Linked DNA regions of Homo sapiens: region 1 is linked to region 2. Evidence: fine-mapped expression QTL. A gene starts in region 2. The other region holds a variant in brackets. All regions are shown on one strand. Distances are between the middles of the regions.

The links.
Region 1: its variant is fine-mapped to the expression of TMEM260 in ileum (GTEx, PIP 0.96).

The regions. Positions count from the first base shown.
Region 1 is chr14:56,750,889-56,753,808 of GRCh38, reverse strand. No RefSeq gene overlaps it. Among named protein-coding and RNA genes, the nearest start is that of OTX2, 58 kb to the left of the region's middle. The variant T/C (reference allele first, on the strand shown) is at 1,568.
Region 2 is chr14:56,578,090-56,581,009 of GRCh38, reverse strand. TMEM260 (transmembrane protein 260) reads right to left here and starts at 1,212. Exons shown (of 16, transcript NM_017799.4): 1 at 936-1,212. The coding sequence starts at 1,095. RefSeq lists a silencer at 925-1,144.

The DNA.
Region 1 (2,920 bases), 170 kb before region 2:
ATCCAGGTCTAATTTTTTGGGAAGCTTTCTTTTTGGTTCATTTTTCTTCAGTGATTATTTCACATTAAAATCCCATCTGATGAAAGGCATATGGAAAGGAAGGGAGGTCATTCCTAATTGAACAACCCAGGACTCGTGAGGTTAATTACAGATATTAACGCTGCTGTTCTTCAGCTTCTTGCCCTCAAGAAGCCTCTAGCTTCCAAATGACCTGGCTCCAACAAAGAGACTCTCTTTAGCCCATTAACTAATTGATAAAAATGTGAGTGTTTAGAATGAGTCTAATTAAATCACCGAGCCTTACAATTACTAGTCCATTTGGTAGCTGTTGGGAGATGGGTAACCTCAGCTGGCATTGTAGAGGAATAAAAGATAAAAATAAAAGGGAGCTTAACCAAGATCATTTTGAAAGCTGTTCATTTGAAGACAAAGTACATATTTGCCTGAAATGTCTACATTTACTACTTCAAATGCATTCCCTTTCTAGGGTAGCACAATCTCTGAAAAAGAAAATAACGTCTTTTTTCTTCTTCTTTAAGAGCAGGCATGCTCCACTTTGTCTAATAAAGTTACATGAGTGGCTGGGGAATTTTTTCTGCGTTAGCATTAAGCTAAATTCCTTTAGAGCTGGGAACACTGAAGTTTGTCCATTGAGCTTTTGCTTAAAGGCTGGCAAATGTCTCAAATAGTAGACATTAAAAAACCCAGAGTGGGCTCTCAGGACTTTTTACTTTGTCCCGAGTCTGTTCTAACTCACTGTTTCTGCTGCAGCCCCGATCCATGACCTACCTTCCTTTCTTCCTCTCTCTCTTTCTTTCTTTCTTTCTTTCTCTCTCTCTCTCTCTCTCTCTTTCTTTCTTTTGAGACAGAATCTCGGCGTGTCACCCAGGCTGGAGTGCAGTGGCACGATCTTGGCTCACTGCAAGCTCTGCCTCCTGTGTTCACCCCATTCTCCTGCCTCAGCCTCCCTAGTAGCTGGGACTACAGGTGCCCGCCACCACGCCAGGCTATTTTTTTTTTTTTTTGTATTTTTTAGTAAAGACAGGTTTCACCGTGTTAACCAGGATGGTCTCCATCTCCTGACCTCGTGATCCTCCCGCCTTGGCCTCCCAAAGTGCTGAGATTACAGGCACATGACGTTTCTTAAAGGCTGGAGCTTGTCTGGGCCCTGGGTGGAGGGATGAGAACCACTGACTCAACAGTGGCAGGTCCAGCAAAGCATGCACAATGAGTCAGCCACCAGCCCAGGTGGTGACTTTTGTCCCCAATTAAGAGACATTCGTAGGCTCCTAAATAGGGGATAACACAAGGATAATATGATACTTCTCACTGAAGTCTTAAAAGCAATGTATTAATCAAAGAGCCAAGGAATTTTAAAAGGGGGAAATTTAATTTGTAAAGATCTATTGAATACTTCTCTCCATTTATTCAAAAAAAAGTACTCTATAGTCAAAAAGCTAATTTATCCTGACTTATAAGCTAATCTGGCTGACATCAGTCCCTGTTGATATGGGTAATATTTTTGACGGGGGAGAAATTGCATGAGAATCCTCTGTTTTCTATAGTA[T/C]CTTTGTAGTAGGTGGTCATAAAAATAATACTGCGGCTTCTTGAATGAGTACACCTGTACTTAATCAGGTGTCAGTACCTTCACTATTAGCTCTGAGAGATAGTTATTTGTTACTGTTGGAAGCATTCAGATAGTGACTAAGCAACAGTTATTTTCAAACTTTTTGTGATATTGAAAGAATGAATATAAATATGAGCATATGTCAATCCTTCCTAGGCACATATTTATTGCCAGAGGCATTAATATTGATAAACAATGGGTCCATCCACTCTACATTAATATAAATCCAAGCAAAAAAGTGTTAAAATCACATTTCACTTTTTTGTCATTTACTCCTAGTCTCTAAGAGGAGGTGTTTTCTTTCTGATTATCCTGTCATTCAACTCATGCTAATTAGTGAGTGTAACAGAACTTTAGCAGACAGTTTGGTTGCAGGTGTATTCAGACCAAGGGAGATTTAATTACTTGCTAATTGCCTGGTGTCCAAGGTAACATAATATCATAGTTGCAAATGCTATGGTATTAATCCATCTTAAAGAAGTGCAACGTGGCTCAGCCTCCACATTCAGAGACTCCTGGAGGACGCTGTTGGCATTGCTACAAGTGCATTGAGGATGGGGGATTGTGTCTTTTGTATTCATGACTGAATACCCAGTGTCTGGCATAGGGCAAGACACATAGTAGACACTCAATAAATATTTATTGCTAAGTGAATGTGAATGAAAGTAAGCCAAATACAAGTACAGTATGAATTACCTGAGCACAGAAAGGGAAGCTATAACTCAGTAGGCTAAGAACAAAAGTGGAGGCAAAAAGGAAGCAAAGTAACATTTTCTGAGCAACTTCCGAAGGCCAAATACTATACATTTACCTAAATTGCCTCATTTAATCTTCTTAGAAGGGTAATGTAGGAATTAAGATCATGGACTTTGGATGAGAAATCTCTGTGTCCTAATCAAAATTCTACCTGTTGCTGGCTTAATGTCCTTCGCCACATCATCTGACTCTTAGAAGCCTCAGTTTTCTCTTCTATAAAATAGAGGGTGTGGGAATAATACTAAACTCAAGGAAGAGTTGTAAAAGTTAAATAAAATGTGTACAATGTCTAGCATACGGTAGGTGGTCAATAAAGCAGTTATTATTTTTAATTTTATAATGGTATTTAAAGTAGCATTATAAAAAACGTTACATAAACTATTGTGATTACCATTTTATTGAAGAGGCACTTGAGACTCAGAGAGGTTAAAGAATTTGCCCTGGCCGGGTGTGGTGGCTCACACCTGTAATCCCAGCACTTTGGGAGGCCGAGGCAGGCGGACCTGAGGTCAGGAGTTGGAGACCAGCTTGGCCAAC
Region 2 (2,920 bases):
TCTGAGTACGAGCATCTAGCTTAAACGGCACCCAGACTCCTGATTTACAAAAACGGGAGACGATAAACGTTTGCTGTTTAAGCTGCTCAATTTGGGGATCACTAGTCATGCAGCAAAAACTGCTTCTTCAGTCCATAGGTTCACCACCTGAAATTACAGCACTATTCTGACAAAATTACTGGCCATGATATGGCATTATTGAATCCAAAAACAAAACATGGATCTTGTTTCTTGCATCAAATACAAAACAATTAGTGTGATTTAAGGGCCAATGAGTCATGCTTTTCTTTTTCATAGAAACAGCCGCACCTGGCTTCCACCTTTTTAAGAGTTCTCCTGCAAATATTCTGCATGGCTAGTTCCTTCTCAATATTCAGGTTTCAACTAAAACACCACCTCTTCAGAGGTCTTTCCTGAATAGTCATTCGGAAGGACCCACTACTTACCCCCACTCTCAATCATATTTCCCTCCTACTGTCTCCATAACTTATCACCAGTGAATATGCTGTTTATTCATTAACTTGTGTATTGTCTAACCGCACTGGAACACTAGCAATTATCTGTTCGCCACTACTGTTCTTTTGTTTGAAACATAATAAGGACACCGTGAATAATATCTGTGGACTAAAAAAGACTGAAAGTAAATACTCAGGACCAGGATAAAAGATCTGGGGAAGTGGAGAGGTCGATAAGCCCCACCAGGCGAAACCAACAATACGCCCCATCTCGAAAACCTGAGAACTAAAGAAACCACAACGACAGGAATGGAAACAGAAGTGGGCTCTGGAACACACAATAGTGCGCTGTGCACAGGGGGGTGGATGGAGGCCCAGAGCTGACCAGACCGAATGCCAAGAGCAGGGGCCAGACGCAGACCCTGCCCGTTCTGGGACCAGGGGAGAGGGACAGAAGGGGCAACCCTGCGAGTACTTTACCGGAGTCTCCCCCCGGTACCGAAGGGGGCAGGGTGAAGGTGAACACTGCGGCCACGGCGGCGAACACCGCCACGCCGCCGCGGATGCCCCCGGAGCGCCGCAGCCCCACTCGGACTGCCCGCCCCTGGGCCTGGCCCCTGCCGTCGCCATGGGGACTCATGGGCCAGTGGCGACCGAGGGAGAAGGACACGGCCAGCCCAAGAACCCGGTGCGACACGGAGCTCCCCAGCCGAGAGACGAGCGCAGCTTGTGCGGCGGCCACGGCGGCTTCCGGGTCGAGCCTCCGCGGGTTGGACCGCACCTTTCTCCGCCTGAGCGCGGGGAGGAGAAAATGCCAGGCCTCCCTTGAGCCAGGCCCTGCGAGTTTTCCCGCAGTGCACCACGCATTGGCGTTCACCTACTTATAATGTGATTTAAGGTTCCTAATCACCAGGAGAGCATTCCCTTTAAAAAGCAAGCCCGGCCACAGGCCTACCTTCTCCATGGCTATTCCCCCCTTTTATACTGACTTGGTTGGGTCTGACAGAGACCAAAGCAGCGTCGAAAACCGCGAGCGAGGAAGGGCTGCTCCTGCCCCCTACGGTGCGGGGTGGAACTGCACAAAAGGGCCACGATCAGCCAGGAGCCCCTACCTGTGCTAAAAAAAAAAAAAGGGTGGTGTATTTACCGTATGTGCAAAGTAAGCCAATAAATACATTAATCACAATTATGTATTTATTACGATTTACTACGTTACTATGACTAATTACAATAAGTCTGTGTGCTACTTATTAAATCACTGAGTAATTTTTAGAGAGATTAGAATATGCTAGTGCGTCTTTTTTTTTTTTTTTCATTCCATAGCATAATGAAAACTCTGTAGATGAGTCGGGAAATTTGAGTTCCTGTATTCATGCAGATAACTCAAACCATGATAAAGGTGTCTCCTAGTTTAATGAAGAGGAGTGTTTTGCTGGAGCTTTCAACACAGCAAAGTGGAAAATGAAATTGAATCACCATATTTTACAATGAGCTGTAACGCAAAAAAAAAGAATCGGAGCCGTTAATAAGGACAACTACATAACAGCGCAGTTAAGCTTTTTAAGCTTATGTTTTATTATTAAAGCAATTATCCTGGAGTGGGCGGGGAGGAGAGCAACCCGCATAAAATGTATCTCAAAGACACACTGAAAACCAGTGACAATCTCAAACGTGTTACGCGCAATTTGATAGAGACACAGTGACTAAACTATAGAGTAACATATACCTACCTTGACGGTCATGGGGCCAGCACACCTTAGTCTTTTCCAGGTACTTATACAATTTCCAGCCTTTTCCAGGTAATTTCTCAGCTGTACTGTGAGTTCCTGGAGGAGAGGGGCTGTGTGGTAGAGTGCTTCTAAAATGGATTCCCAGATAACCCTGCCTCCTCACTCACTTCCTGTATAAGCTGCTCGCCTTATGTGTGAGCTTAACCTAAGGATTGGCTTCTATCAATACAATAAGGCAAAAGTGATGGATGTCACTTTCAAGATTAGGTTATGAAAGACTAACTTTCATCTTGCTGGCACTCCCTCTTGTCCTCTCACTTGTTCTCTCTGATGAAGCCACCTACCATGGTGTAGGCTGCCCTGTGGAAAGGTCCACATGGGAAGAAACTGAGAGCCGCCTCTAGCCAACAGCTGGCAAGAAACTGAGACCTTCAGTCCAACAACCTTAGAGGAACTGAATCTAGGCAACACCATGTGAGGGAGCTAGGAAGTGGATCCTTCCCCCACATAAGCCTTGAGATAACTATAACTCCTGTCAAGACTTGGATTGCAGCCTGTGGATGACCCTGAAGCAGAGGACCTAACTAAGCCTCATCCAGACTGCTGTCCTATAGAAACCGCGAGATAATAAATGTTGTTTTAAGTTGATAAATGCAGGCTAATTTGTTAGTTATCAGCAATAGATAGTTAAGATAGGCTGTCTTCTATTTCTTTGCTGAAAGAACATGCCAATGA